Linked DNA regions of Homo sapiens: regions 1, 3 and 4 are each linked to region 2. Evidence: fine-mapped expression QTL. A gene starts in region 2. Each other region holds a variant in brackets. All regions are shown on one strand. Distances are between the middles of the regions.

Region 1 (8,109 bases), 27 kb after region 2:
AATAATATCCTTGGGACATAGGTGGCTAAGTGGCAAGGTCACAATATGCTGTAGTGGCTCTTAAACTTTGGCCCACTTAGGCTGAGCACAAGACTTCATGGCCCCCATATCATACCAGTTCTTATCTTTCAGGGTTTTGTTTTTGTTTGCTTTTCACCAATCGCATATATTTATACATGTAGAGCAAGAATTGCACAATATTGTAGGTCATGGTAGGCAGCCTTATTAGTATAATACTGAATCACCTTCCCTAAAATTTTAGTTTATAAATGGCAAGCAAAAGAAAAGTCTCGCTCTCCAGTTTCCAGTCTGACATGTAAGGAGCTTGGAAGTCATTTCTCCCATCTGTACAAGAAAAAAGCTGAACATACTAAAAATCAACAACTGTTTTTAGATCCATCTGAGAATTGAAGTCACAAGGCAAACCGCTGCCCTAAAAGTTGGAGAGATAGGTGGATTCAGAGAAACATGGTTTACTGGAGGAGAAACCTCCACAGGAACCAGTACCAGGGCCAGACAACCTAAACGGTAACTGATGAATTGCTAGAGGCCCCGTGTGGACAGCTTGAGAGTTAAAAATGCCAGGGGGAGCCCAGTCTTAGGGGGCCTCCACACTTTCAAGAGTTTTACCTCCAGGAGCCTTATTAGGTTCTTACAGTGAAGGTTACAAAAAAGTCATTTGTGCTTCCATCAGCAGGAGGGGACATGTACAGATGCTCCTTAACTTATAATGGGATTATGTCTTGATAAACCCATCATAAGTTGAAAATATCGTAAATGCATTTAATATACCTAACCTACCATACATCATAGCTTAGCCTAGCCTACCGTAAACATGCTCAGAACACTTACATTAGGCTAGAGCTGGGAAAAATTATCTAACATAAAGCCTATTTTTTTAAATGTTGAATATCTCATGTAACTTATTGAATACTGCACTGAAAATGAAAAATAGAATGTTTGTATGGATACTTGAAGTATGGTTTCTACTGAATGTGTATACTTTTTGTACCATTGTAAAGTTGAAAAATTGTAAGTCAAACCATTGTAAGTCTGGGAAGTCTAGAGTCATTTTGAAATATACCAGAGCTCTATTCCTCCTAACAAGACCTACCTTCAAGGAAAACCAGTTTACAAGAGCCTAACCAAAGTAGGGTCTACCAGAACCTAACTTACCTGGGGGGAGAAAAATAACCAACTCTAACCCTCTGTAGCCTTCCTGTCTCATCTAAGAGAAAAAAAACTGAAAAGCATGTGTGAAGGCCATGGTTCAGGGGCACAGGCTCACTGAAATACTGCTACCTAATCATAGGCCCATAGAATGATTCGCCTTTCCCCACATCATATCAACACATCAATAAGGCTCCTATACAATAACAGGAGATTACAACTGAAATAACTGCACCTCCCATACTTTATTTTAGAAGTCTCTAGGCCAAGCATGATGGCTCATGCCTGTAATCCCAGCACTTTGGGAGGCCGAGGCGGGTGCATCACTTGAGGTCAGGAGTTCAAGACCAGCCTGACCAATATGGTGAAACCCCATCTCTACTAAAAATACAAAAGTTAGCCAGGCATGGTGGTGCATACCTGTAATCTTAGCTACTCAGGAGGCTGAGACAGGAGAATTGCTTAAACCTGGGAGGTGGTGGTTTCAGTAAGCCGAGATAGCGCCACTGTACTCTAGCCTGGGTGACAGAGTGAGATTCTGTCTCAGAAAAAAAAAAAAAAAAGAAGCCTCTAAAGAAACCCAAAGATAACAGGAGAGACTAAAACAAGGCCACCAGAAAAAAAATTAGTCTCTGATACCTACAGCTACAGCAAACAGTAAACAAAGTCTAACTCTGGCCACGTAAACATAAAACCTTGCACTAAAAGTTTATTCTCTTCATTCTCTTTCACTCACTACATCACATGCTACTTTCAACAAAAAAAAATTACAAGGCATACTAAAAGACAAAAAACAGTTTGAAGAGATAAAGCAGAATCAGAACCATACTTAGATACAGCAGAGATTGTAAAATCATCAGACCAGGCATTTAAACCAATTATGATTAACATGTTAAGGGCTATAACAGAAAAAGTGGACAACATGCAAGAACAAACAGAAAGATAGTAATGTGAGTAGAGAGATAGAAATTATAAGGAAGAATTAAAACGAAATGCTGCAAATCAAAATCACCATAATGGTAATGAAGAATGCCTTTGGAAGGCTTAGCAATAGGCTGGACACAGCCAAGGAAAGAATCAATAAACTTGAAGCTATGCCAAAAGAAACTTCCAAATCTGAAAGACAAAAAGAAAAAATAATTGAAAAGATGAATACCCCCCAAACTGTGGGACAATTACAAAAGGAATAAATGCCAAACACTGGTCACCATGAAAGGAGAACTAATTCCCTGAGGTCATGTATCCTTGGGGCGGCAGGTAATAGAATAGCCTGTGGGCTATCCTTGCCTCTCACTCACTTTTCCCAGTCAGAAGAGAAATAACTTATTTGATTGGTGAGTTTGGAAAAAGAATTTAAGTATCTTGAGAGTACCACGTTTTTCTCTGTTTTACTGTTCTCACTCACCATGCAAAAAGTGCCCTGTCTCAGTTGAAAATACTGTATTTTTCCACTTCTGCCTTTTATTGTGTGGGTACATTTTATTCTGTCCGAAATATTCAGAAACCCATTGTTGCTGCACATTGATTTAGCATAAGTTAAGACAATAAACAGAACCTGAAGATGAAGCTTACATGCTAAACTTTATTGGGAAGGAGTGCAACCTTAGGACAATAGAGAGTGGGAAAACATAAATGAGGAGGGCAAGGAAGGAGAATAAATATAAAGTGATATATTATGAGGCTGGCCACAGCTTTGCAAAAGATAAAACAAAGGAAGAGAAAACCACAGCAAGTTATCTTGTCACATGCCATATATCCATACAACTATGTGGAACCAACCACCATCTCAAAAAAGTCCTTCGGTGTGTGGAGGGGAGAACAATTAGTTACTAGCTCACCTCCCCCTTATTTCTGTATACTGTCTCTCATGGGTCAAAATTTGCCCCATAGGACATTTACTCCCTTACACTTGTGGGTTGCATGACCTGCCCTTCCAGGCAGCTGATGGGGGAAGTCAGATCCAACATCTTCTGGGTGGGAAGAGCTAGGTCCTCAGTGGGTCCCATCAGTTTGGCCTAGACACCAAACTGCTGTGGCTTTCATCATGGCACACATGATGGCAGTAGTGTCCGAGCCTAGCCCTGGGAAAACCCATCTCCTGGGTATGTTAAATGAAGTGTGCCCAAAGTTGTCCCCAAGACAGGTAGCTATGGGCCCATTCCAGACAAATTCAAAGGATGCTTCCAGGGTGTAATAGTAACAGTAGCTTCTCATAGTAATCAGAGTGGGGTTTTACCAGCCCATATAGTTACCCTCCCTCCCTCTGCCTGCCCCACTCCTTTTTTTTTTTTTTTTTTTTTTTTTTTTTGCCTGCTACTCTACTAGTATGAAAAGTGGCTAAGGAGTAGTTGAAGCTTCCAGGTTAGTGGAACTTTCACTGTTTTGTCTGAATCAAGACCTCCCTTTCCTGGAACCAGGACCCTACCCAGGAAAACCTAGGTTTGAAGAGTGTGAGAAGCTGATCCTACTGTTTTAATTGACTTTTTCTTTACCCTGTTGGAGAGAGAGGAATTCCCCCTTTAGGTGTATGGAGTGGCCAAACACAACACCCAACGCTGGACAGATAAAACTGACAGCAGTTCATTAGTCACGTATACTATACTCACGGCCTGGGGAAGGACAGCATGCTCCATGCAGGGCCTCATGAAATTACACTTGAGAACAGTGAACAACCAGACCACAAGGGCCAAACTCTGAGCAAAGTCCAAATCCTTTCTTCTTCCATCAACTGGTTGTAGTCCCCTCCCCGTGAGGCCATAAGTGTGAATTTAGGGACAGCCACTGATGCAAAAGAGGTAGGTGACATGAGATTTGAGTCACCTGTATACATAATTTGTGGTATCTTCTGGATTAACTTGAGCCAAGTCCTGAATATACCATTTCCATCAAATAATGTTTCTGCCCAACTTTATGACTTATAAATCTGATCACATTGAGCTCACCATAGAGAAATATTCTCAAGTGAAATATCAGCTGCCTCTAAAATCCAAAGAAGGCCAAAATGCACTGTGCCTCTTTCTTGGTGGTAAGAGATGCAAAGGGCAACCATTTTTGCTTTATTTTATAAGGGGTTGTTCTGATGTGCTTTAGGCAAGTTGACAGGTGACTTGACTCCTAAAATTTTCACCAATGTAGAAGATCCTCAACTTCTGTGAAATTAATCTCCCACCTCTGGCATTCATGTGACTTGCCAGATATAGGGTTCCTGAAATCTCCTACTGATCAAGTCCAATTAGCATAATCTTCTCAATATCGTGGACCAGCATGAAGTTCTATGTAATGTCAAGGTTGCCATGGTTCCTGTGAAGTATATGATGACAGAGACAAGAGCTGACATAACACCGAGGCAAGACGGTGAAGGTGAGGCTGGGAAGTCCAAGACCAAGATGCCACAGATTCAGTTCTTGGTGAGGGCCTTCTTCCCAGTTTGCAGATGGACACCTTCTTGCTGTCTCCTCACATAGTGGACAGAGAGATTAGCTCTAGTGTCTCTTCTTTTAATAGCATTAATCACACTCATGGGGGCTCC[A/G]ACCCATGACCTAATTACCTCCTAAAGACCCCACTTCCAAATACCATCACATTGAGAATTTTAGCTTCAACACATTAATTTTGGGGGGAACACAAATATTTAGTCCATAGCACCACTGCTAAAAGTGGGAACCGTTCATGAGCCCTGAGTGTCCCTGTGCATTGTTGCTGGATGTGCGAAGAATACAAGGCTCTGACCACTCTTTACCCAGGTGATTTCTCAGGATTGTGTTTGCATTGAGCAACCTTGAAAAATGAGTTGCATAACCTCCTAGGCAATGCAAAGGTTTATAGTAAAAGCAGTAAATTCCCTAACTCAGAATCCCTCTGTTGTAATGCAATACACTAGGTGAGTTGGAATCCTCTTGGCCCACCTGAGTCATCACCATCGCTCCCCTCTGTGGGATTTAGAGGATACAAGGAACAAATACAAATGAACATGAAGCGCTGGTTACTGCCTTTTCTGTGAGTGCTAAAGCTGTTTGTGTCTAACCCAAGATCTTATTATGTCTTCTGCAAACTTCCATGAAACTGTGGGAGGGCTATTGTTAGCTTATAAATAGGGTGAAACCTTAGACCTTAAATATTTCTTGACAGCCAAAAAACACAAGCTGCTTCTTTTGCTAATAGCTATTAAGAAGAAAATCCTTGCCATATCAATAGCTGTATATCCAGTGTTAGAGGGTTGGTAGCCATAGTAAAGATATCTCATCTGGCACTGTAGCTTTGATTAGGTCTGTTTTCTGGTTACATCAGCATCATCCTCCAGGGTCCATCTGATTTTTACAGAGTCCAGAGAATTGAATCAAGAGAATATTAGGGAAATGAATCCCTTTATCTTTGGTGAGGGTGTTAATCTCTGTAATTCTTCAAGGATTGTGGTATTATTCCTGCAATTGACAAGAGATGAGGCCATTTTAGAGACTTAAACATGGCCAGTGGTTTTCAATCAGGGGTGACTTTGCCCTCTTAGGGACATTGGGCAATGTCTAGAAACATTTTTGGTTATCATAACAAAGGTCGTTATTGGCATATAGTGGGTAGCCAGGGATACTATTGAACATCCTACAATGCCCAGAATGACCCCACAACAGATAACTGTCTGGTTCAAAATGTCAAAAGGGCTGAGGTTGAGAGACCCTACACTTAGCCCTTCCTACCACAATGACTCTTACTCCACAGGACAGGCAATTGATTTGAGGGTGCAGCCAGAAGCTAAGTATATCTTCTCCATCATACTTTTGGGAACAAGAGAAATAATTGCAAAGTGGGTGTCCAAAACCACTTAACCCTTTAGTAGACAGACTTGGTCTCCATAACCCTCTCTTCTAATCAAGTCTCTGTTCTAATATGATGGTGTTTCAGGTCTCCTTTTGTCAGTATCATCTCATATACTGTAGCTGATAGTCCTCAAAAAGTCTAAGTTTTACTCTTTCCCTAGTGTCCAGTTACCCTGGCAAATTACTTTGGTTCCCTCTGGGGAAGGATCAGAGGACTACTTACTGTATATGCTTGCAGTGGCATTACAGGGTCCTTCCTCTGTGGGATCCAGAATCTCCTTCAATCAATGGACTCTGAGTCTGTTAACTGACTTAGATCTGGAAACTCAATGATGGAGTGCAGTTTTCTATTGTGGAAGGCAATGATCACCTTCTACGCAACAGCTCTTGATGTTAAGTTATCCAAATCAAGCATCCCCGCCCCTCGCCAGTCAGTTTCCCATTACAATACATCCTTGAAAGTAGGCACTCACTCAACTGGGGCCTTGCTGTTCACAAGGCTTATTAGATCTATCTTTTCCTTGATGGTTAATGGCTGCCACCTGGTCTTTGATCATCCACATTCCTTTTACCACCATGAATTAAAGGGGGCCCAATTCCAAAGCAGCACCTCCTACTGTGAACCTGGCCTACAGAGGACAGCCACCACTGGGTTTCTCAAAGATGCTGCTGTCCCACCACTTACTCTAACCCCATTTCCCCATGGCATTCTTTATTGCCTCATGAAGGCAGCCTTATGGGAAACATAATCAGGTGGTAGGTCTTACAAAGTGAATCTGTTCTCACATGCCTACCTCCTTGAGACTTCTGCCTCCTTTCTCAAAACTATGTCAAGGAAGTTCTCTTATCTCTACTTCATTCACTTTAGGCCATCATAGTGATTAGGCTTGAAGGCATCATTGTAGCAGCATGTAAGGACAAGCGCCAGGTGTCCTTATCAGAACACCAAATCCTCTGTCACAGTGGAGTGGTTCATGTCAATCCGTTCTCACCGATCCAGCCCGTGTGCCTCCTACAGTCTAATGCCTTCAAGATCCATTCCCACAGGTGTTCCCACAGTTTCTGCCAGCACATTTCATCAAGGTCAAGATTTCCTTTGGCACAGAGGCTATGTATTCCCCAGCAGGAAGAAAATTTGCCTGGAGGCAGTGAGAGGAGGTTAATGTGGGTGTTGAGGAAAAGTTTAGAATCAGTGTGATTTTGGGGGCACCTGCTTCATAAGCTTGATCATTGCATGCTTACCAGGCAAGGGGTGATTCTTTACCACTACCAAGGGGAAACAGTCTCTTTTGTCAGTCAGAAAGATCCAGGCTTGCCTACAAATATCCCCATTCCAGGTCTCAATTTTCCACTCTTCCCTATCAAGACCCTGACTTTAATATCAAGTCCCTATTGAGACTGCACATTTAGTTTTATTTATATATATAAAAACTAAATATATATATATATATATATATCTGCCACCCTTATAATTACATCCTAAACCAATTTTAAGTGCAGCTTCAGGAGATAAGCACCTCATTTAAACAGAGCCTCTGGCTTTCATTGCATGACTTAAGTTGATAATAAGATGCCCTGAGTGTATCATTTTCTTTTAGCAAAGCCTCAAATGTCCCAAAAACAGCTCATCTGCACTGCAATTGCCACCCCTTTACTGACCAAAGGCGGTAGCTCCGTGATTTTCCAGGTTTGCTCTCCACCTGTACTTCATCCCAGTTAACCACAGGTGAAAGAATTAGCAACTGTGTATCCACTTCTAGAGGCTATTGCTGTCCCAATTATCTGATTGTTTTCAGACAGATGGGCATCAAATTCAAAGTCCCACTCCAAGGTCCTCCTTTCTAGGATACTTCTTGTACTAACTTTCTTAGTAAACAAGAAAGTTTACTAAGCTTGGTGGCTAATGCTTTATTTTTTGGTAGTATAATCCCAGGCTGGGCTGAGTCAAGCAAAAGGGGAAGTGAGGCAGGGAAGGAGGGACAGCAAATACAGTGTGGTCCATTAGTGAGCCGGCCATAGCTTCGCAGGAACACGCAGCCAGTTGTTTCATCATATGAGATGAATCTCTATAGACTGTTATGAAACACTAAGAACAGCCCAATGAGGAGAGTTCCAGTTTTCTCTTGCTATG
Region 2 (8,098 bases):
TCTTGAACCATAAACACATAAGAGGAAAAAGACCTTTCTTCAGGGTCACCCTGGTAAAACTTCTCCTTTCAAAATTAAAGTCATAATCACTCTCTATACCTCCTCTCCCTCCCCTGACTCCTACTCAGGCTTGTTTTAAATGACCTATTTTCATAAATGACTATTAAGTCAAAGGCAGTATATTTTCTGTCAGAAGCTACTGAGAGGTCTAGTATGAAAACATCTGCAAAGTGCCCTGCAGGGAATTTTTTTCTTTTTGGTAAAAGAATGAAGAAAAAAAAGAACTTTTATTAACCCAACTATGTGCTACCAGAGTTAGATTCATAAGCAATTTACAGAGAAACCCTGTGAGGTGGAAAGCAAAGCCAAGGCTGACCCCAAAGCCCAAGCCCTTTCACAGGTACAGCTGCCCTTCTGAATATGTTAAGATTCTCTGGTTAAATCTTGGGGAATCGCAATAGAGGCGGTGAGAAATCCAGTTGGAGAGTAGCAGCACTGGGGAAAAAAAATACCTAACGTGACAAAGTGCTGTAAATTAGCCTCAGAGAAATACAATGGACAGATGCAAAGAAATCTATCTCATGTGATTTGAGTTATGCCACTGAGCAGAAGACATGAAAATCCTTATTTCTTGGCAATGTTTACCTGTAAGTTTTTACCTACTCCTGGCGTATTTACAGTTTAGGGTGAAAAGAATTTGAAAAGCAAAAATTGCAAGGAAACATTACAATCCAAGTAATTGCAGCACTAGACTAATAGATCAGTGTCTGAGGAGGCGATCAGATAGGCAGAAGAACAGCTCTCTAAATCCTCCCTTCGGACACAGTGGAGTTCCTCGCTGTCTTTTGAAGGCTTCATACCAATCCCTCCTTCCTCGGCAGCAGGGGCTACTTCTCTCCCTCTCTCCCAAAGGCGAAGTGAGTCCACTCAGAGCACCTCTTTCCACTCTCAGTCATGGCCCTTATCAGGCTGTTTCGTAATTTTTCCATTTGCTGACTGGTCTCCCGTGCGAATTTAAAGCTTCTTGGGGACAGGGAAAATATCTTACTCACTTGGTGTCCCTGGTACCTAAGCACACTACCCAAGTCTGTGGAAGAGACATTCAAGGCCAGTGCCAAGCAAAATCCCTGTCCAGCCCCCATCAGCCCAAACTATGGATACAGTGACCAGTAGGATCATGCATGTACTTCAACAAATACTAACCAAGTAATCTCTATTATGAGCACCAAAAACTGAGAAAACAACTGTTTGTGTCATTCAAGAACCAGCTGTTTCCAAATCTAGAGATGCTTGTTAAAATGCAGATTTTCCCGAAGTCTACTCAGGTAAAGGCACTGTATTTTACATTTTATAAAGTTCTCCAGATAATTTCTATAAGCAAATGGTTCTCATCTAGGGGCAGTACCCCCAACCCTGCCCCACCCTGCTCAGGGACACTTGGAAATATCTGGGGACACTGAACTGTCATGACTGAGGAAGGTGGTGCTACTGCTATCCTAGTGGGTAGAGACCAGGGATGTTGCTAAACATTTTACAACTAACAGGACGGCCCTCCACAACAAAGGACTGCCCAGCACAAAATGTCAATGGAAGTTGACAATCTCTGCTATAAGCCCTAAATAAAAAAATAAATAAAAATAAATAAAAATAAAAAAAATTGTTCTTTGGTTTTAAAGTGAGGAGTTTTAAAGAAATCTCCAAGGTACCGCAAATGATAACCAAAAGCTACATTCTAACCAAATGATGGAGTGTAGGTTATAATTAATCAGGGGTGTTTTATTCTAACATATAGGGAACCTGAAAACAACTGTCAAAATCTTGAAGGGGTTGCCATTCTAAATAATGGATTTCTAGTCTTGGCCATGAAAATGATCACTTTCCAATTTTTCAGTGTTACAGGTCTCTCCGATGATTAAAATCTGTTAGTACACTTTTAAAAGGAGAGAATAACCCAGGTGATGTAAACAAATTTTTAAATTCTAGTATCTACTATGCCACAGTTCAGTGAGAGACTGCCTGATACAGCACAGAGTACTCACTTGGGAGGCAGGAAACCTGAGTTCTAATCCCAGCTCTGCTACTTAATTAGCTGTGTGACTTGGATAACTCATAATTTCACTTCTCATGGCCCCAGGTTCCTCATCTGCAATATAAGGGAGTTATGCCAGATGACCACTTAAGTCTCTTCCTGCCCTAACATTCAGGTAGTCTAACGCATTAACGCCAGTGACACACACACACACACACACACCACAAACACAAGCCTCTCAAGATTTCTGCACAATATTTAAGCAAGTAAAATTACCAAACATCTCTAAAACTTTTTTGGAAAACACTGCAGCAATGTGTATGAAGGCCTAAAACAGACCTTTCAGATGACAGCATCTAATCTGATAATTTCACTTCTGAGAATCTAGTCCAAGGAAATAATCTAAAAAATAGGGGGAAAAGAGTTTATCAAAGCACTATCTGGGATGCTAAGATGATGTAAAAATTCAAAAACAATCTAATGTCCCACAATCGGGAAATGACTGAATAATTTACGGGACCTAAACTGGGACCCACAATGATAGGACAATCAAAAGAAGATACAAAATTAGAATAATATTTAGGAAGAGTTTTTAAATGGAAGTGGAAAACTACACTGTTAAGTGATTAAACATGTACACTCTTAGTTCAAGTAGAAGCTAGCACATACAAGAGAAAATGATCGTAGGTGAAAGGGTTCAGTGAATATTATTTTCTTCACTAAAGTCTTCTATGTTTGCAATTTTCTACAATAGTCACGTATTACTAAGAGCAGTGGGGCAGGGTAATCCGCATCATCTTAATCCTACACACCTTAAAAATGCCTGCTATGCAGGTGTGCGGACACGCATACGCACAGAAAACCTTGGGCGATAGGACTTAAGACCATACAATCGGGTTCCTCGACCTGACAACTTGGTAAGACAGGCGAGTCCAGCCTTTAATTCCTGTGGTCAGGCGCAGCCACCCCGATGTAGGAGAGGGTTCGCAATTCCCTGAAGCCCTCCTGGAAGACAGGCGAAGCCTAGGCCTGGGTTCGGGATCCGCTTTCCCGCCGAATCTTGGGATTAGCGTCGGGGCTCCCTGGGGAACTTCAACAACCTGAATTGATCTCGGACGCCAACTCGGTAGGAGCCGGGACGGTGCCGCTCCTCTCCGCGCAGTCTAGGCGCCTCGCTGAGGGCGGTCCCGGCGCCCACCATCAGACCTCTCCCAGCCATTCCATGCGCGGAGAGCTTGGACGCGGCATTTCGCGGGGACCCGCCACCCAGCGGTCCCTTCCCGGAGCCCCAGCCTGTTCACCGCAGGCCCTTTCCGGGGCTGCCTCGCCCGGCCTAGGGCCGCTGCAGCCGCCGCTCCACAGCGCGACTGAACACTGGGGCACCGAACCTGGGGCTGCGCCCGGCCCCGTCGTCGGCCCGCGCAGCGGTGCGGCTCACCTCGCCGGCGGGAACCAGAACCCTCACTCCAGGCGCCCCACGAGCCCGGCCGCCGCGGATGATCCCAGCCAAAACCGAAAGCGCCGAGGCAGGGGCACTTTTCTGCCTCAGCCAATCAGTGCTCTTCTCTGCTACGGCAGCCCGCTGGGGCCGAAAAAGCCTGTCAGCACCAAAGCGCGCAAATCCAAGATTCCTGGTTTGTCTAGTAGCAAAATTGGTGCAGTGGAGTTCCTCTAACAGAAATCTGAGTACAAAACAAATACAATACAAAACAAAAACAAAATTCCAGGAAACTAGAAGTGATCTTTTGGGCAGGATTTATTTACAGAAGTGTAAAAAATAACTTGAAGTCATAGGAAACTGGAATTTACTGTTTAAGTAACGGCATTGTGTACCCAGAAACGTCCTTGAATAGTTTAAAGCAAATAAATAAATAAATGAAACACCTCAAGTCTTTAAATCTACCTCTGGATATTGATTAAATGTGTGAAGACTTAAGCCATTTTAGCAAGAGACTGTTTCCATGGCAATGTTAATTGATACAAAAATAATCAAAATCACTCAAGTAACTCCAAATTATAATGACATTAATTGTGTTACATTACTAGTTCCTATTGGAAATGGTGTGCAGACTTATTTCAGTGCTACTATGGGAACTTGGTTTGGAATTTTGCATGAATTCTCAATACTCTTTCTATTAATGGAATTGAAAGGGAAAAAGAAGAGAACTGTTACACCAGGACTTGATTCGTTTTTCCCCCTCCACATATACTCTCATCAGTTGAAAACTTATACTTTAATTATATTTATGATTTGTAACACTATACACAGAGTGATAAGATCTTTCAACACAGATCCTTAACCCCATTAGGTGTTATAAAATCTAAGATGCAAAATTTTTTTCGAAGATAAAGAGTTCCTCCCTTGTAAACTTCTTTTGGTTAAAGGCAGAAGAAATGAACTTTTGATTGATATCAGGGACAGAAAACAACTGGATATGATTTGTTAAAGAATAGAGACTTCCTTATATCCTTCTATAAAAGTTCAGTTTGGATAAAGACCGAACAGTTACTGATTTATTGTGAGGGCTGTATTTGAAGTTCTTGCAATATAAAATACAATGTAAATAAAAATTTTAAGAAAAGTACCATTTAAATCAAATAATTACGTGCAAAGAACAAACATAATAGGATAAAAAGCCCTGTTCCTAAAAACTTTCTTTGCAAACGACATCAAATTGCACATTCCTTACTGATTGTTTAAATTATTAAAAAAAAAAAGAAAATTTTTGATTCAAACTTCTTTCCCTTTCCTACAGAGCCCTAATCGAGCCGTTAACACTAGTGTGGTGGGTAGGGAGCCATGAGGAGTTTTAAGGGCCTAGTTCATCTGCTGAGCAGCTGCAACCTTCTCTAAGGGGAGTAGCTGGGTAAGGGCCCAGTTTGACACACGGGGTGGGCATCCTGAATTAATTCATGAGCTAACAAGCTTATAAAAAGTGTGGCTGTTCCCAAAAGCCCCTCAGCAGCTTATAAATGACTTTTACTAACTCACAAGGCAATTTTCCGTATTTCCCAGGTTTTTGCTTTCAGCATCTTTTATGATGCAAAGAAAACACTGCAAGACTTTTGGTGAATACTAGTCTTCAAAACCCTGAATGTAAACATTAATTTATTAAGGAGCCTTAAAGTCATAAAAATATTTTGGCAAGCTTTAGTTTAACTTATGTAGTTTAGTTTCATTTAGTTGTTAGGACTGATGAACCTACACTGACACATCATTATCATCCAAAGGCCAAAGTTTACATTAGGGTTCACTCTTGGTGTTGCACATTCTATAGGTTTTGACAAATGCATAATGAAATGTACCCACAATTACAGTATCATACAGAATAGTTTCACTGCCCTAAAAATTCTCTGTGCTCCACCTATTTATCCCTTCCTCCCCACTGGCAACCGCTGATCTTTTTTCTGTCTCCAAAGTTTTGCCTTTTTCCACAATATCATATATTTGGAATCATACCGTACACAGTTAGTGGTGCATACACTGCACCACCCCACTGTGTAGCCTGTTCAGACTGGCTTCTTTCACTTAGAAATATGCATTTAAGACCCCTCTGCGCCTTTTCATGGCTTGACAACTCATTTCTTTTAAGTTCTGAATAATATTCCATTATTTGGATGTACCACAGTTTATTTATCCATTTACCTACAGAAGGACATCTTGGTTGCTTCCAAGTTTGGGAAGTTATGAATAAAGCTGCTATGAATATGTGTATGCAGGTTTTTGTATAGAAATAAGTTTTCAGCTTATTTGGGCAAATATCAAGGAGTATGACTGCTAGATCATATAGCAAGGGTATGTTTAGTTTTGTAAGAAACTGCCAAACTGTCTTACAATGTGGCTGTACCATTTTGCATTCCCACTAGGAGTGAATGAGAGTTTCCATTGTTCCACATCCTCATGGGCATTTGGTGCTTCCAGTCCTTTGGATTTTGACTAGTCTAATAGCTGCTTAGTGACTATCTCATAGTTGTTTAAAGTTGTAATTCCCTAGTGACATATGATATGGAGGATCTTTCTATATACTTATTTGCCATATGTATATCTTTGGTTGTTCAGGTCTTTGGCCCAATTTTGAATCAGTTTGTTCTTTCTTTTTGTTGAGTTTTAAGAGTCCTTTGTATATTTTGAATAATAGTTCTTTATCAGATATGTGTTTTACAAATATTTTCTCCCAGTTTATGGCTTGTCTTTTCATTCTCTTGAAGCTATTATGCTTAAAATAGACAAATGCAGATATATAAATGCTAAGAGAACTCTTGCCACTTCATTGTTTGTCCCTTCTACAGTTCTATAGTACATATGCCTTTAAATAACTATGTCCTTCAATGTTTCATATTCATAAAAGATGGTCTCATGTCTAGCTTATTAAACACCCAACAGCCCTGTGAACATGTAGATGAATGTATTGTGATGTTGTTGTGGTTGTTGTTGATGATGATGATGATGATGATAAATACAAACATGTAATTGGATTGACCAACACTCTCCAAAGCAGATTTTAATATGTAACATGGATGTTAAGCTTCCAAGAATACTGGCTGGTCTTGTTGGAGCAATGCATTAACTGGTATGAAGTGCTGGCATGGACCTGAACCTTTCCTGGACCTTCAGACTGTACAATAGGAGCTCATAAGCTGTGATGTGCTAGTTTTGGATACTTGGGGCCACCATTATCTGCCTTTAATCATGGGATATGAAAATTATTTGTTATAGAAAATGAAGAGAGGCCGGGGGCAGTGGCTCACACCTGTAATCCCAGCACTTTAGGAGGCCAAGGTTGGCGGATCACTTGAAGTCAGGAGTTCAAGACCAGCCTGGCCAAGATGTTGAATCCCGTCTCTACTTAAAATTAAAAAATTAGCTGGGTGTAGTGGCACATGCCTGTAATCCCAGCTACCTGGGAGGCTAGGCATGAGAATCTCTTGAACCCGACAGGCTAAGGTTGCAGTGAGATGAGATCATGCCACTGCACTCCAGTCTGGATGATAGAGCGAGACTGTTTCTTAAATGAAGAAAGAAAGAGAGAAAGAAAGAAAGAAGAAGGAAAAAAGAAAGAAAGAAAGAAAGAAAGAAAGAAAGAAGGAAGAAAGAAAGAAAGAAGAAAGAAAGAAAGAAAGAAAGAAAGAAAGAAAGAAAGAAAGAAAGAAAGAAAGAAAGAAAGAAAAAGAAAGAAGGAAAAGAAAGAGGGAGGGAGGGGAAAAAAGAAAATAAGGAAACAGACAGACACTCTCTGGTTGTTGAATACCTTCTAAGAAGTGATACAAGCTCATTGACTGGTGGGCAAATTTCTCAGAAAAAGTAGTATGTCGTTTTGCTTACCCAAGGAAGTGATATATTCTACATCATGGGCGCTTGGTTTCAGATGTAACATGTGAGATGTTTAAATAATGTTCGGACTTCATCAGCCATCATTTTGGCATGACTTGAATTTTAAAAGAGATAGGATCAGAGTCTGAGCTCCTGGAAGGAGAATCTCCCAAATGCTGTGATGCTTTATACTCCACCGTGAACTCTAGAAAACCTCTCTCAGCTGTAAAATTTAGTGAAATCGGTGTGAAGCTGCCCTTGTATTTTAATCAAGATGAACTTGAAAGGTGAACATTATAAGTGGGAGAAATTATTTATAATTTGGTAATAAAAGTTTATGTCTAACACTCCAAATTTCATACATCTGCTATGTGCTGGCCCTGAGATATAAAACAATTGAAGTTGCCTTTACATTTGGCCTTATATGAAAGGTCATAAATTAGAGTGATAGCGTTCATCCTCTTTCCTAGCTCACAAAATTTCCATATTAACATCTTCACCTCAAACATAAATGGTTACCCAGCTACAAAGAAAAGAGTTGTGTTGGCCTTTATGAATTATAGTTTATGTTGGAAATCTGTGCTACACAGGGCTGCTATTCAGCTTGTAGGAGAGTACATCTACTTCAATGAAGCTAATTCTACCACAGTGAAACCAATTAAAATCATATGGCCAATTTAAATAAATATAGTATATAAACACTTGGGAATACTTTCAAAATTAGCAAATGGTTGCCAAGGTATGTGATTCTTTTAACT
Region 3 (8,109 bases), 22 kb before region 2:
TGTTCAATGTGTTGCTAAGATTAAGTGAGACCATACTATGACATAGGGTGGTTGGTTCTGAGGATTAAATGAGGCAGTTTATACTGAGTGTTGCAGATATATAGCACCTGTAACAAAGAAACTGCTCAGTAGTTTTTACCCAGGATGATAATGATAGTGGCATCAATGATGATGATGATGTTACAATTACAATATCCTTCTAGTTTAGTAGTGTAGAAGGTATAGGTTCTACATATTTTAATAGATGTAGTTTCTAGACCTATTAAAATATTCTGTGGTCTTGACATGCCTTCTTTAAGTGAACCCATATTGGCTTTTAAACCACAACTTTTTTTTCTACATATTTTCTACTTCTTTTGAGTATTCACGGTTTTTGCATCAAGGTTGCTGGTCTGTTGTTTCCCTACCCTTTCTTCCTTTTTAAAACCAGGGCATTTATTTGCTCATGTCTCATTTTCCTCAATGTCTCACAGGTGCCTAACAGTGTTTCCTGTGTCACCTGCAAGTTGCTTTGTGCAGTGTGATATCATCAGTGCCCCTGGAGAGTTAACTTAGAGGAGTTCCAGTCTTCTTTATTTTGGTGGATTCCGTTTCTCCCCTAGAAATATTTTCAGCTTGGAGATGATTCTTTTTGAAGGACAAAGAAACAAAATAAGACCCGAGTTGCCTGGCCTCCACGCCATCTGTTAACACCAGGCTATCCTCATTAATGAGTGGCCTTGTCCCTTTGTTGTCCACTTTATTCTGAAAAGTCTCAGCATATCTGGGAGTTTGGTCTTCTTTTCAAGTAATTATTTTAAATTTTAATTAACATAATAATTGTATATATTATATATTTATGTGCTACAATATGATGTTTTGATATATGTTTACATTGTGGGATGATTAAATCAAGCTAATTAACAAATCCAACTCCTAACACATTTATCATTTTTTTGTGGTGAAAACATTTAAAATATATTCTTTTAGCAATTTTGAAATATACATTATTATACATTCTGTGTAATAGATCACTAAAGCTTATTCCTCCTAACTGAAATTTTGTACCTTTTGATCAGCATCTCCCTATTACCCAGCTACTCAAGAGGCTGAGGTGAGAGAATCACCTGATCCTGGAAGGCTGAGACTGCAGTGAGCAGTGATCACATCACTACACTCAAGTCTGGGCGATGGGAGTGAGACTCTGTCTAAAAAGAAGAAAAAAAAAATCAGTAACATTTATTTACACTAAAAATGAATTACCTCAAAAAGAAATGAAGAAACCAATTTCATTTACAATAACATTAAAAAAAAAAACCACTTAGGAGTAAATTTCACCAGGGAGGTGAAAGATTTATATACTGAAAACTATAAAACATTGATGATAGAAATAGTAGAGGACACAAACGAATCGAAAGGTGTCCCATGTTCATGAATTGAAAGAATCAATATTGTTAAAATGTCCATACTATGCAAAACAATTTACAGATTCAATGTAATTCTTCTCAAAATTCCAATATCACTTTTTAAGGAAATAGAAAAAACAATCCTAAAATATGTATGGAACCACAAAAGACCCCAAATAGCTAAGCAATACTGAACAAAAACAACAAGCTGGAGGCATCACACTGCCTGACTTCAAAATCTATTACAAAGTTATAATAATTGAAGCAGCATGGTATTAGCATGAAAACAGACATACTGGCCAATGGAACAAGACAGAGACCCCAGAAATAAGCCCACATATCTAAGATCAATTGATTTTAGAAAAAGGTACCAAGAACACACAATGGAGAGAGGACTGTTTCTTCAATAAATGGTGCTAGGAAACTGGATATCCACATGCAAAAGAATGAAAATGGATGCTTATCTTGCAACACATACAAAAATTAACTCAAAATGGGCTTGGGCTTCTTGACATATTCAGGTGCAAGTGGTTTAAAGTCTCTGGACCCAGACTGCTGGGTTTAAATCTCACCTCTGCCAGTAACTAACTGGGTGATATTGAGCAAGTTTCTTCCTTTCTGTGTGCTTCAATTTCCTCATTTATAAATGGAATAATAATATCAATTTCATAGGGTTGTTCTGAAGATGAAATTAGTTGTAAAGAGCTTAGAACAATGGCCAGCACAAAGTAAGACTTGAATATGTGTTAGCTCTCTGAAGGCTCTCTTTTTCTTTCTCTTTGGAGTTTGTATTCAAAAAGATACTTTACAAATTTTCATAAACTTTCTGTGTCTTCCCACAAGATGATATTTTTTTTTTCCTGAACTGAACTTTTTATAACTGCTTTCACAAAGGCTGGGATATGTGTCTGACTACACTTAAGATTTATTTCAGCTGGGGGAGGTGGCTCACGCCTGTAATCCCAGCACTTTGGGAGGCCGAGACAGGCAGGTCCCGAGGTCGGGAGATCGAGACCATCCTGACTAACATGGTGAAAACCTGTCTCTACTAAAATACAAAAAATTAGCCAGGCGTGGTGGTGGGTGCCTGTAGTCCCAGCGACTTGGGAGGCTGAGGCAGGAGAATGGTGTGAACCCGAGAGGCAGAGCTTGCAGTGAGCCGAGATCACGCCACTGCACTCCAGCCTGGGCGACAGAGTGAGACTCTGTCTCAAAAACAAAACAAAAAACAACAACAACAAAAGATTTATTTCACTCCCTGGCATACTCGCCAAGATGACAGCCACCTTTTTTCCCAAATTCCCATCAATTCCCCGTTCAATGAGCATTCTCTCCTTATGAGTCCAGTGTGTTGTTTCTTCTGATTTCTAAGCAGTAAAACTGTCAGCCCAACAAACCAAAAATGCATCAGATGGTCAGCTTGCAGCAGAATGAACTTCCAGCAGATGGTAGAAAATTAAGGACCTTATTACTGCACTGCAACTTGCCTCTTTGCCAGTGTTTTCAAATTTTCAAATAATAATAATGAGCCTGATGCTGAGGATGAGAGAATTTCTATCTGGAAGCCAAAATGCTTACCAAAGACCTAGGTAAATTATCTAAAGACACCAGGATTTTGTTTCTATGTAATTATTTGTCAGCAGGAAAACAGCAAATGAACACCAATATCTCAGGCACCTTCAGGCACTGGAAATAAAAAGCCAAGAGAAACACAGCTCTGCCCTCAAGGAGCTTCCGATATACAATGGCACTGAAATTGATCTGGTCTCACTGTTGTAAAATCCTGATAGGAAACTCTTTTCTTCAGGTTTTGTCAAGTTCCTAAAGTACCTAGGTCAGTGGCATTCACACACCAACTGCCCACAAAATCACCAGCTATGTCAGGAGAACAGCTTCCACTGAGATACAACAGGGACTCCAGCACAGTCCCTTCCCCTCCACACAGAAAGCTTGAGGAAGGGTCAGCTTGTTAAAATAATAAATAAGTTGACATGAAATTCAGAATAAGGGCAAATAGGAGAGAAATAATGCCAAGATAATTTAGGCGAGGTAGGGGTAGGGGATTCCAACTACAGAGTTTAAAAGCTGGCTTCTCCCATAAAACAGAAGTAGAAAGAGGGAGAAAGAAGAGAATCATAATTTGGGGTAAATTTCACTTCATTAAAGGGAAATGAATGACAGCAGCAAAATTGATCATGTTAAAAGTCTGCACTGGTTTTTAATTAAAAAGAATGGCTTTCAAATTATCTACCTAGCTGGACATAGTGGTGTGCTCCTGTAGTCTCAGCTACTCAGGAGGCCGAGATGGGAGGATCACTTGAGGCCAGGAGGTTGAGGCTGCAGTGAGCTATGACAACACCACTGTACTCCAGCCTGGGTGACAGAGCAAGACTCTGTCCATTCCCCACCGCCCCCCGCAAAAAAATTCTCTACCTGATGATCATTCAACCTGGTTTTCCTTTCAGTTAAAATAAATTCATTTCTCTGAACAGGGTATATAGGTTCACTCAGGAAAACAGTTCTAATCATGGGAAATAGTATCTATTATCTATTATCTCTCAACCTCTCACCCATCTATTTTAATTTTTTTACAATAGATGTTCCCCTTTTTTCTGGAAATGCAAACACAATACGGCATTTTGATCAAGGCTTGCTATATCTCTTTGACATCCTGCATTTTTCCCTCACAGTACTTAAAGTGATCAGTTTCAATGAAAAGTTAAAAAAAAGTTCTAGGCC[G/A]GGCGCGGTGGCTCACGCCTGTAATCCCAGCACTTCGGGAGGCCGAGGCGGGTGGATCATGAGGTCAGGAGATCGAGACCATCCTGGCTAACAAGGTGAAACCCCGTCTCTACTAAAAATACAAAAAAAATTAGCCGGGCGCGGTGGCGGGCGCCTGTAGTCCCAGCTACTCGGGAGGCTGAGGCAGGAGAATGGCGTGAACCCGGGAAGCGGAGCTTGCAGTGAGCCGAGATTGCCCACTGCAGTCCGCAGTCCCGCCTGGGCGACAGAGCGAGACTCCGTCTCAAAAAAAAAAAAAAAAAAAAAAAAAGTTCTAATGTTTTATAATACACTGAAAAATGATAAGAATAAGAAAAGAGAAATTGTAAGTAAACATGTCACAAAAAATGTACTTAACACAAAATGCACAACCTAACATGGTTGAATTTAAAATGATTGCATGGTGATTTTAAGCAATGTGCCCAAGGTTGGGGGTAGAGTGGTTTTGGGGTATGGGCTGTGCTCAAGGAATGGGGCCTGGGAAAGTCCTAAGTACACAAAATGAGAATGAGGGATACAGAGAAGGGGGCCAAGTGACATGGCAAATCTCACGTGAGAAAAGACATTAAATTACTTCAGTCTTGGGGCCAGGCATGGTGGCTCATGCCTATAATCCCAGCACTTTGGGAGGCCAAGGCAGGTGGGTCACTTGATGTCAGGAGTTCGAGACCAACCTGGCCAACATGGTGAAACTCCGTCTCTATTAAAAATACGAAAAGTTACTCCAGCTACTGGGGAGGCTGAGGCAGGAGAATTTGCTTGAACCCAGGAGGAGGTTGCAGTGAGCTGAGATCATGCCACTGCACTTAAGCCTAGGCAATAGCGTGAGACTCTGTCTCAAAAATAAAAAATAAAAACAAATTACTTCAGTCTTCATTCAGCATCTGAGCAAATGAGTCACTGACAAAAGAACCACAGATTTAGTCAGCATTGCCCAGGGAGGGAAAGTCGATTCAGATGCACACACAGCCTGTCTCCACTTCTCTCCTACAGACCTACTGGGTCTGATGATGCACAGCTTCTAACACAAAGGTCCAGCAAACGGCTGCTGGGAAACAGCCTGTTGAGTAGTAATTAGGATTAGAGAGACTCCAGGGAAGAAAAAACAAATTCTAAGAGACAGTCATCTCAAAAACTGCTAGTCTCTGCAAACAGTGCCTGCAGACGCAAGCCAAGGAGCAGTTTTCTACCTTGGCCCGGTGTATAAAGGGCTGTTGGCCAACTATTGATATTTCCTGTCACACTCAAGCAGGATGATAGCAAATCACTGTCAGCAACATCATCTTTGAATGTAGAGGACAGCAGTCTGTGTGCACACTTTGGGACCTTCTTCATTCGACTACTGGTAGGATGAATCAGAAGAGAAGATTGATTTATTAATTAAATGCATGCTAGAAGAAGAAATCAATGGAGCCCACACCTATGCACTTGATCAAATAGCAGAAGGAACTGTTACTGTAGTTGCAGCGACTCACCAAGTGACCCTCGGCAAGTCACTTTAACCTCTTTGCTTCAGGTTTCCTCATGTGGAAAAAGGGACTACCTTGTTCAGTGACTACGAGAGGAGAATGTGAGGATTAGCTTAGTTGGCTAATGAAACCAAGGTGGAGGTCTGATCCTCATGAGTCTCCTCTACTGCACTCCCAGCATGGAGAAATCATCTCAGAAATCTATCTATGTCAGTGCCAGGGGGACAAGGAACAGGGTGTGAAGCAGGCTCTGCCAAGAATATCACAATTAGGAAAAAGACAAAAGCAAACTGGAGATCAGGTCCTGTTGATGGGACATCTTTGAACAAGACAGGAACACATGCACTTTCTCAGGAGGAAGATACTTGTAAAGAGTTTTGAATATACTGAAAAGGGAGAGCCATAAAAACCCACTGTATGAAAAGTGATAAGGTAAAGTTTTAGCTGTAACATGCCCTGTGCCTTTGAGACACATTTTACATGAGGCAAGTTCTGAGGTATACTAAAGACTCCATGATCATCTCCTCACAGTATGTGGATGGAACACATTTGGTTGGCTTGAGATAAAATTACCTGGTCTAATGAAAGATGGTCACCTTCTGCATTTTCTTTTAAATATAGGAATATATTAATTGGAAAATTGTAAATTAAACTGCAGCAACAAAACCAAACCAAAACAATCTATTCAGACTCAGCTTCTGAAACCATGAAGAAACCAGTTACTATTTTCTTTGGAATCTAATGAAAAATAGATTAAGACACCAAGAGCACAGGTCCCTCAACCCAAGTCTTAACAAAGAAAGAATTCTTTTTTCAATATAGTAAAAATCACACCGATGCTTTATACTTCTGAATGCTTTACTAATGATTAAGAAAATGTATAATGCAAAGGATATGGTTAACATACCATGATAGTTAACTTCATGTATCAATTTGGCTAGGCCATGGTACCCAGATATTTGGTCAAACATTACTCTAGATGTTGCTATGAAGCTATTTTTTAAAGATGAGATTAACATTTAAATAAGTAGACCTATTTAAAGTAAATAAAACAGACTACCCCCCATAATGTGGGTGGGCCTCATCCAATCAGTTGAAGGCATTAATAGGAAAACACTGACTTCCTTGGAGGAAAAGGGAGTTCTTCCAGCAGCCAGCCTTCAGACTTGAGTGGCAATTCTTCCCTGGGTCTCCAGGCTGCCAGCCTACCCTGCAGATTTTGGGCTTGCCTCCACAATTGTGGGAGCCAAGTCCTTAAAATCTCTCTATACATCCTATTGGTTCTGTTTCTCTGGAGGAACCATGACTAGTACACATCATGTGGTAGGTTACTACCACTGTTCACCAGTATTTCTGGTTGTCTCTCCTGGGTCCATGAAAGGATTATACTTTTCTGAAAACTTAAAGTAAGCCCTGACCGTGTAACTTGCTTTGCCTAATAATGGGGTAGAAGTGACACTAGCTTTAAGCAAAAGGTTTTAGGAGCCAGGGAGTGATCCTTTCTGCCCTTCCCCTGCCACAGCAGATGCTGATTCCTCAGGTTGAGATGGTGGAAACATAAGGTGCTACCTCCCTCGGCCTGGGCCCCCAGGTGACTGCAATCAGTGGAGTCCCACCTATGGGCCCCTGTGCACATGGAGCATAAGTAAGATCATTAGTTGTTTCAAACCACTGAGATTTGGGGTTTGTGACTAACACACTACTGTGGGCGGGGTATAAGGAGCCCTGTATCCCAGCAACATCCACTCTACCGTACATATTACACATTTTTAATTTTTTCATTTTTCCAAGTTCAATAAAACGTCTATTTGATATAAACACTGAATAGTGACTTGAAATACCGTATGCACATGATGGTAATAAAATTGCCTAAGATTGTTACGTAAACTTTTCATAAACTAACCTCTCCTTTAATCCAAATTATTGGTATATTGCCAAACTCACCAACATCCATCCCATTATAAAACTTGGAATAAATTAAGCCCATGTGAATTTGGACATTTGTGTAACCTAGGCATTGAAAACTAGCCTATCCCAAGTGTTTCAGTGTTTTATATTTCATGAAATTCCTGGAATATGCCTCTGCCTTTCTATCTGCTATAACTCCCAAATTACTATGAAGAAAATCCTTCAGTGCTGCAGATGAGTCAAAATGGGTCTTCAAATAAAAAAAAATCCAACATGACTGTTCAGTTAAACCACACAAAAGCTGGCTTTTCTAGGAGAAGGAAAAAAACAAAGATGGGAGGCTGAACTACCTGGGCCTGTGGGTAAACAGGGCATAGTTACGTTCAGATTTCAGAATTATCCACTCCTGAGTTTATTTGGAATTTCAAGATACGAACATACAGTTGAGATGCTCAAATCCATCTAAAATGTTCAGGTTTTTAAAAGAATTCTTACAATTTTGGCCCAATTTTTTAAAAAAAGGATGGAGGGTACCACTTTCCCCCATAAATACCCAAACCTACAAACTC
Region 4 (8,109 bases), 70 kb after region 2:
GTTGGAAATTATAGAATCTTCAAATTGGAAGGGACGTTATCATCCAAGATTTCAACTTTCTACTCACTGCAAAATCCCTTCTGGAACTTCCCAGATTGATGAATTTTCATCAGCTCTGCTTGAGTACTCCCAGTGACTTGGAAAAAAAACACTGTAATATGGATATGAAATATAAACTGTTCATGGATAAATTATTGCATAATAAAAACATGCCTAATGGCTACACTCCCCTAATATGTTCATTTGGTAATTATTTTTTATTTGCAAACTTGTTTTGATAGAACTGTTTCTTTTAAAAAGTTTAATTTGTCTTGAGATACATTTTCCTTTTATATCTTCTTATTAATGGGCTTATTTTCAAAGAGGAAGGTACAGCAAAGGTAAAAGAAAAAACTCATTTTCTCATGTTGTTTTGGGGTAAAAAATAAAGGCTAACAGTGGGTGAGTGATCTTTTTAATATTTTTAGTTAATTTCCCACACATACTTTAAAAAGTTACTATGGTACTGTTTTCTCCTACTATTAAAAATCTGTTTGAAATGAACTACTGGAAAAGTTAGGACATCATAAATCATCTTAAATAGAATAATTTATTTGATGTTTAATCCCTAATTAAGATGAAAATATCAATTGCAGCTGTTCGTTAGGTATGTTCTTAGTTTGTGTTTGGGCCACAGCAGGGGAAGAAAACCCAGAATTTCATAATTTTAAAGAGATTTCTAAATGCTCTGTGTTACACAAAACTTGCAAGTATGGCATTGTGGGAGACAACAGCAGTGTCATAGCTGACATTTGGGTTCTGGATTCAGACTGCCTGGGTTTAAAGCCCTTCAGTCCCCATCTTGATACAATGTTAAAAACATTCAAAGTTTTTAGCACAATGCCTAGCACTTTAGATGCCCAGTGAAATGCTGATATTATTTTTCCTTGTCCATTGAGATCTGTTTTGAAGTATAGGCAAAGCTTGGGACTGAGAATAAAGAATCAGCATCAAAGTCTTATAGTTCATCGTTTTAAAACTGTTTTCTCCAATTTATCCAAAAATAAAATTGAGGGAGTAAGATAGCCCGTGGTTAACATATCAAAGCACCAATAGACAGATTAGAGACTAAGAAGGTACATGAGCACTACAGGCTAAGATGTGGCCAGAACGCATGTCAGGTAAGAAGGGATACCCAGAAATCCTATCTTGGAGGCATCAGGTGAGCATGAGCAAAAGGATATCCCAGGCCAAAGGAACCTTGAATTAAGCAAGCTCTTTACAAGTCCTTCCTTGTGAGGAAGGAACGGCCCTGGGCCAGGCTTCCAAGGACTTCCATTTTAGTCCTGGGTCTGCCTTCTGTCACATTTCAGGCAGGCCATTTAAATTCTCTGAGCCTCAGTAACATTTTTTTTCCTGCCTACCTTAGGGTTATTGAGATACTGTGTGGGAAAGGCCATTGAAACAAAGTTTCAGAGCACTATCTATAAAACACCACATTTTATCACTAATAATCCCATCTTCTAATGTAATTACAGACTTCCCAGGATTTAGCAACCAGGGCCTGGAAGGCAGACAAAGGTAACTGGCCCCATGTGATAAAAACAGGTACAAACTTTCTTTTCTTACCTCACAAGCCTAGCTTAGTGCTGGACACTCAGCAAATGCTAACAAAGTGCCACGCATTGGTTTGAAAGGGTTCACTTCAACCTTGCCTTCTTCAGGAAGCACTTACAGAGAGCACTTTTCAGTGGGTAACAATGTGACGTCAAATGCTCAGTTTAAAACCTCCTTCCAAATAAAAGGAAATTCATCCTAGAAATGGCTAGAATGACAGAATGAAAACAGAGCAGTATCTACCTGGGCTTTAGTGCCAGGAAGTGACAGTCATTGGCTATGTGTTCAATTACATGGCCGAAGTTAATAGGTAATCAAATATTATGCAATAATAGATTAGTTGCCTTTCCTTGTTGCTAATTATCTAAAATATCTCTATATTGCATATTTAAACATAAAAATTTCCCTAAGGTGAATGATACACTATGCCATTTTTAGTGATTAAATGTGGCATTTTCTGCATCTTAATGAAACCATTATTTTTGTTCAGCTGAGTGATTTTATTAATTAAAAGAATGTCAGGAGAGTGGCAGCATGGTCATAGAGTTCTCAGAGAGTCGTAGCATTATAGAGCCATAAAGGACCTGACCAAACCCAGCCAGGGACTCTCAGTTTACCTGTAATTCTCCACCTGGAAGTCAAAAAGCTGGGTTCTGATATCATCAGTACTATGTGACCCCGGGCAAGTCATTCCAACTTTCTTTGACTGAGTTTATTCTTCAGACAAGGGATCTGTAATGCCATGATACTTTAAATTAAGCTTTTCATGTTGACATATGTTTATATATTGTTACACTAATAATGATGTGTCCCAACAAAGTATGGTTTTCTTTCTCTTTCTGACAACAAACACAGGGACTAGCTGTATTTGAATTCTCTGTTATTGGGAAAAAACATGGCTTTTCTTAATAGGCTGTAAATAACCTGAGGGTGCAGTTTGGGGTTCATAATTTTGTGTCCCCCATGGTGCCTTTAACATACTACTAGAAAGAAATAGAATTTCATTGTTGCGTGTTTCAATGTATTTCGGACCAAAGCATCCTGCTCTGAAACATCATTAAGGGAAAAAAATCCTAGCATATTGTGGGCCTCCAATGAAATGAATGTTAATTGTGTTGCCCAATACCAATTTATTAACGTTTATGAGCATACAACTGTGCGTGCACAAACACAGTTCATATATAGTTCTTGAAAAAAGCATTTGGGGTTTTCTACCACATGATGCTTTCAGTCAGTACCTCCTACCATTAATTTGTGTTCAGAGCAGTAGTTCCCAAAGCTACCCCTTCAGCAACATGTATGTTGACATGGATGTTGAAATGGATGATGTAAATACAGCCATTCAGAATAATCTGGAATCCTATTTTATGATTTGGAATGCCCAGAATGTCCAAGACATGACATACTTACAATTTCTCAGAAAAGTCACACCTGAAAAAGGTAAACACTCAACATAGACACTTAGACTTTCCAGGCATCTTAGCTACAAGACCAATGGTGTCAGTATCTTGAGTTCTGTGTTCTATAGGAGCTTTTTTTTTTTTTTTTTGAGATGGAGTTTTGCTCTGTTGCCCAGGCTGGAGTGCAGTGGCAAGATCTCGGCTCACTGCAACCTCTGCCTCTTGGGTTCAAGCGATTCTTCTGCCTCAGCCTCCCGAGTAGCTGGGACTACAGGTGCTCACCACCATGCCAAGCTAATTTTTGTATTTTTAGTAGAGATGGGGTTTCACCATGCTGGCCAGGTTGGTCTCAAACTCCTGGCCTTGTGATCCACCCACCTCGGCCTCCAAAGTGCTGGGATTACAGGAATGAGCCACCATGCCGGGCCCACAGGTCCACCCACTACTCCAGGAGTGTGTCGCTTCCTGCACTGGTGACAACACAGGGAGCCCATGATGTGCAAGTTTCACAACACATGTGGTTCGTTTTCCTCCCCTAATGACTCAAGAAGAGAGTTTTAGAATTCAGGCTGAGTCTCAGTAATTCAATTGTAGAAAAAGCAGGCAAAGCTGTAGCTCTGTCTTAATTAGTTTCATATGTGAATGTATTAATTGTTTCATTAGGAAATGTATTAGGTAAATTGAATGTGAATGTGGTGGATAAGGACACA[A/G]AAGAAATCCCTTGAAGGTTCATGATTGTTCCATGTGTAGGCCCGGGAGCATCTTCATTAAGGCAGGCAGTTTTGGGCCACCCGATCATGACCATGGATCTACGTGCTGGAACTTGAAAGTATGTCCACGCTCAAGATTTCTGTCTCTTCTAAAGCAAGAAAGGACTGGTTTTGCATGCCCTGCCTATGCACATCTTTATGAAAATGTAACCTTTTCACTCACTTTCTGAACTCCACAAAAGAGTCAGCTTTCTCCTGTTGGTGATGAAACCAGCTGTTGAAATACTTCAATTGGGTTGCAGTTGCTTCTCCTGTGAGCTGCATGGCCATCTCTTCTTTTGTTTCAAAAACTTGGCTGGCACTTTCAGCAGCCACTGTGAAGTTGGTAAATATCTAAATGACTTCTTCATTTTCTGACCCTTGAACAGAGAAGTAGAAGATTTTCTGTGTTCATAACTAGCATGTCTGGATTGTGTAATTTCATCTTTGCAAATATATCACCAATTCAAGGAACAGCTTTAGCTTGTTTGGTTTTTGAATAGTGTTGACCATTATTTCCTAAAGAAAAATCACCCAAGCCTTCCCTGAAATGTTAGTATTGTGCTAACTGAGGCATTGGCTAAAAAAGAAGTGTGTGTATGGAGTAGGGGGTGGGTGTGGATGGAGACAGGGTAGGAGGGGTTCCCTGCTTTTATAAATCCGGCAAGCCTGCCTTTGACAGTCTTTCATGTTGGCTTTATTCTTCCCTTTGGGAATTTTCCGAAGTCACTTTTGGCCTTTGTTTATTTTAAAGGAAGTAGAGAAACAGCCACAAGAGGAGGAGAGGAATATAGTTGCCTACAAATCGACTAATGTGTTTTTTCTCTCTCTATGTTACACAACAGATATATAACAGCGCTTCCCCTGCATTGAATGGTAGAGATCAGAGTTTCTAAATTCCAAAAAAAAAAAAAAAAAAAAAAAGTCAAAACTGGTACATTTTAGAGATGAGGAATAAGCATAGGTGGGAAAATGTCTGCAGGCATAGGCAGCCTTGGGCAGGTCTGATCTGACCCATTCTAATCAGTTATTGGGAAGAGAGTAATTATTAAGGCAGGGGAGGTGACAGTCACCTCCACCCCCAAATCCTGGGGGCGCCATGTAGCCCAGGCCATCCTAAATGGTAGGTCACTGACTTTCAAGAACGCCTGGGTAAAGCACATTACAAGAAGTGCCATCCTCTTTGAGCAATACATATGCTATAGCTGGGCTGTGTGCCAGGCCAAGGGGACCTGCCTGTTGGTGGTGAGGATGCTTTCCATGAGGGGGTTGTGTGGACTAGCGCCCTGGAGGAGGCAGCCCCCCTGATTTTCAGCGTGAGAGAAAGATAATCCTAATCCCATCAGTGGCCCTCACTTGTAGTGCTATATGAGCCAGGCCCTGTGTTGAATTTTTCACATTGATTATTTTTAATGATCCTTAAACATAGAGAACTATTATTATTCTCTTGAGAAAATTGAGGCCCAGGGAGATAAAGCCACTTACTCAGGGTGCATGATGAGGTGGCAGAGTAAAACTCAATTCCATGTTTTTCTCACCAGAAGACCCTTGCTCTTATCCCCCACATCTTATGTTTGTTGACACCACTTGTGGTTGGTACCTGAGCTTATTCACTTCCCGTGGCCTTGTTCCTCCGTTCCTTTATTTCTCTGTTGGCTGTTTCCCTCTCTCTCTCTCTCTCTCTCTCTCTCTCTCTCTTTCTCTCTCTCTCTCTCTGTCTCTCTCTCTCTCTCTCTTTCTCTCTCTCTCTCTCTCTCTGTCTCTCTCTCTCTCTTCTTTCTTGACGGAGTCTCACTCTGTCTTCCAGACTGGAGTGCAGTGGCGCGAGCTCGGTTCACTGCAAGCTCCGCCTCACGGGTTCAAGCCATTCTCCCTCCTCAGCCTCCCGAGTAGCTGGGACCACAGGTGCCTGCCACCATGCCCGGCTAATTTTTTATATTTTTTTAGTAGAGACAGGGTTTCACCCTGTTAGCCAGGATAGTCTCCATCTCCTGACGTCGTTATCCGCCCACCTCTGCCTTCCAAAGTGCTGGGATTACAGGCTTGAGCCACCGCGCCTGGTCTGTTGCCTGTTTCTTAAATCTTCCATCCTGGGGGATGGGAGGTGGAGAGAATGAAAAGGAGCTACTGCCATCCCCACCCCCAACCCCCTCACCTCCACCCACCCCGACCGCCATTTACATTTCTATTTCATTTTCACACACATGTCCATTTAAGTCTTCATTGCCCCCAAGCAAGAATATTTCAATGTCAAGACCTGCCACAGCATAAGGACTTTGCCCACAGCACTACATTTAGAAGTGATCATGCAAATTATTCAAGTGGCCCAAAGCCTTGATTGTGTAGACAACTTCAGTGGAAAATGCTCCATTCTGATCTCAGTCCCCATCTTTCTCAATTCACTGTTGAGTCTTCACAAAGTATCCTACTCAATCATCTCTTTGACAGTCCAGATGGAACAGATAAGGGAGGAGACTCTTTTCAAGACAATTCTTAAAAATATACGCAGAATAATATGGGGAATAGGCACTCTCCTGTATTGTTCTCAAGTAGGCAGGATGGAAGGATCTCTCTAGCAATTTGATGATATATTTTAAAACTCTGAACAATATTTACGTTCTCTGATCAAATGATACTGCATGTAGAAATTTATCCTAATTCAATAATCGTAGGCATGTGCAAATATTTGCATGCACAGAAATGTTCATCATGGAATTGGATTATAATAGTGAAAAACTGGGACCGAAGTGTCAGTGATAGGCGCTTGGCTCAGTAAATGATGACTCATCCATACATTATAACATTATACAGTTATAAAAAGGGTTTCATAAGGAATTTAACGATTTAAAGAAATGATCCTGAAATATTAAGCAAATATTTCAAGAAAGTTCTGTTCATAACGGCACTCACTAGTCACATGTGGTTATTTAAATTTTAATTGATTATAATTAAATAAAATTAAATATTTAGTTTCTCAGTGACAGAAGGCACATTTCCATACTCAATAATTATATTGGACAGTGCAGATGTATAACATTTCCATTATTTGCAGAATTGTGGGCACTAAATAGAATATGATTTCATTTTTTCCAATATATGTATACACATAGAAAAATATTAGAAGAAAATATGCCAAATAATAATGATGATCTTTAGTTGGTGGGATTGGATGAGAGGTAGGCACACTTTTTCTATAAAGGGACTAATAGTATTTTGCTTTATTTTATTTTATTTATGTGTTTTGAGACAAAGTCTTGCTCTGTCACCCAAGCTGGAACACAGTAGCATGATCACAGCTCACTTCAGCCTTGACCTCCCAGGCTCAAGCAATCCTCCTCCCTCAGCCTCCCGAGTGGCTGGGAACACAGGTATGTACCACCACACCCAGCTAGTTTATTTTTATTTTTTATATTCTTTAGAAACAGGGTCTCCCTGTGTTGCCCAGGATGGTTTCAAACTCCTGGGCTCAAAAGATCCTCCCATTTCGGCCTCCCTAAGTGCTGGGATTTTAGGGATGAGCCACAGCACCCAGCCCATAGTAAGTATTTTAGACTTTGTGAGCCATGCAGTCTGTGTCACAGCTACTTCATCTGCCATTTCAGCAAGAAAGTAGCCATGGGTAGCACATAAGTGAATGGGCGTGATTGCATTCCAATAAAACCTTAAAGACAAAGATAGGTTGTGGGCTGAATTTGGCCCACACGCCATAATTTGCTGACCTTCCAGATTAGATAATTAAGAGTAAGGTTTTTTTTTTCTGTGTACTTACTTATATTTAAATTTTAAAACTAAGTAATGTGTATCCTTTATTTTTAAAATAAAACTCAGCCTTTCTAAACACCAATTAACATTCAAGCTAAGAGCCAAATTAAAAATGCAAACCTATTTACAATAGCTGCAAAAAAATGAAATACCTAGGAATATATCCAACTAAGGAGGTGAAAGATCTGTACAAGGAGAACTACAAAATACTGCTGAAAGAAATCACAGATAACACAAATAAATGGAAAAACATTCCATGCTCATGGATTGGAAGAATCAATATTATTAAAATAGTCATACTTATCAAAGCACTTTACAGATTCAATGCTATTCCTATCAATCTACCAATGTCATTTTTCACAGAACTAGAAAAAATATTTTAAAATTCATATGGAACCAAAAAGCTAAAATCACCAAAGCAATCCTAAGCAAAAAGGACAAAGTTGGAGGCATCACATTCCCAAACTTCAAACTATGCTATAAGTCTGCAGTAACCAAAACAGCATGATACTAGTACAAAAACAGACAAATAGAACAGTGGAACAGAATAGAGAACCCAAAGATAAAGCTGCATGTATACAACCATCTGATCTTTGAAAAAG

Alleles and levels. Positions count from the first base shown, and alleles are read on the strand shown. Sizes are in standard deviations (SD) of each study's normalised expression. Not every link is listed here.
For the expression in fibroblasts of the gene that starts at base 3,561 in region 2, A is the low allele of the variant in region 4 and G is the other (small effect, 0.38 SD a copy in GTEx).

What was found. PIP is the estimated chance that this variant, and not a neighbour inherited with it, causes the effect.
Region 1: its variant is fine-mapped to the expression of LSM6 in neutrophils (BLUEPRINT, PIP 0.95).
Region 3: its variant is fine-mapped to the expression of LSM6 in whole blood (TOPMed, PIP above 0.99).
Region 4: its variant is fine-mapped to the expression of LSM6 in fibroblasts (GTEx, PIP above 0.99).

The regions. Positions count from the first base shown.
Region 1 is chr4:146,143,952-146,152,060 of GRCh38, reverse strand. No RefSeq gene overlaps it. Among named protein-coding and RNA genes, the nearest start is that of LINC01095, 26 kb to the right of the region's middle. The variant A/G (reference allele first, on the strand shown) is at 4,700.
Region 2 is chr4:146,171,181-146,179,278 of GRCh38, reverse strand. It overlaps LSM6 (LSM6 homolog, U6 small nuclear RNA and mRNA degradation associated), which reads right to left and starts at 3,561. Exons shown (of 4, transcript NM_007080.3): 1 at 3,468-3,561. RefSeq lists a silencer at 3,352-3,411.
Region 3 is chr4:146,193,017-146,201,125 of GRCh38, reverse strand. No RefSeq gene overlaps it. Among named protein-coding and RNA genes, the nearest start is that of REELD1, 17 kb to the left of the region's middle. The variant G/A (reference allele first, on the strand shown) is at 4,125.
Region 4 is chr4:146,101,580-146,109,688 of GRCh38, reverse strand. It overlaps LINC01095 (long intergenic non-protein coding RNA 1095), which reads left to right. Exons shown (of 6, transcript NR_038331.1): 6 at 1-234. LOC105377469 (a long non-coding RNA gene) reads right to left here and starts at 4,012. Exons shown (of 3, transcript XR_939294.1): 1 at 3,930-4,012; 2 at 1,609-1,804; 3 at 64-151. RefSeq lists an enhancer at 3,399-3,448. The variant A/G (reference allele first, on the strand shown) is at 3,707.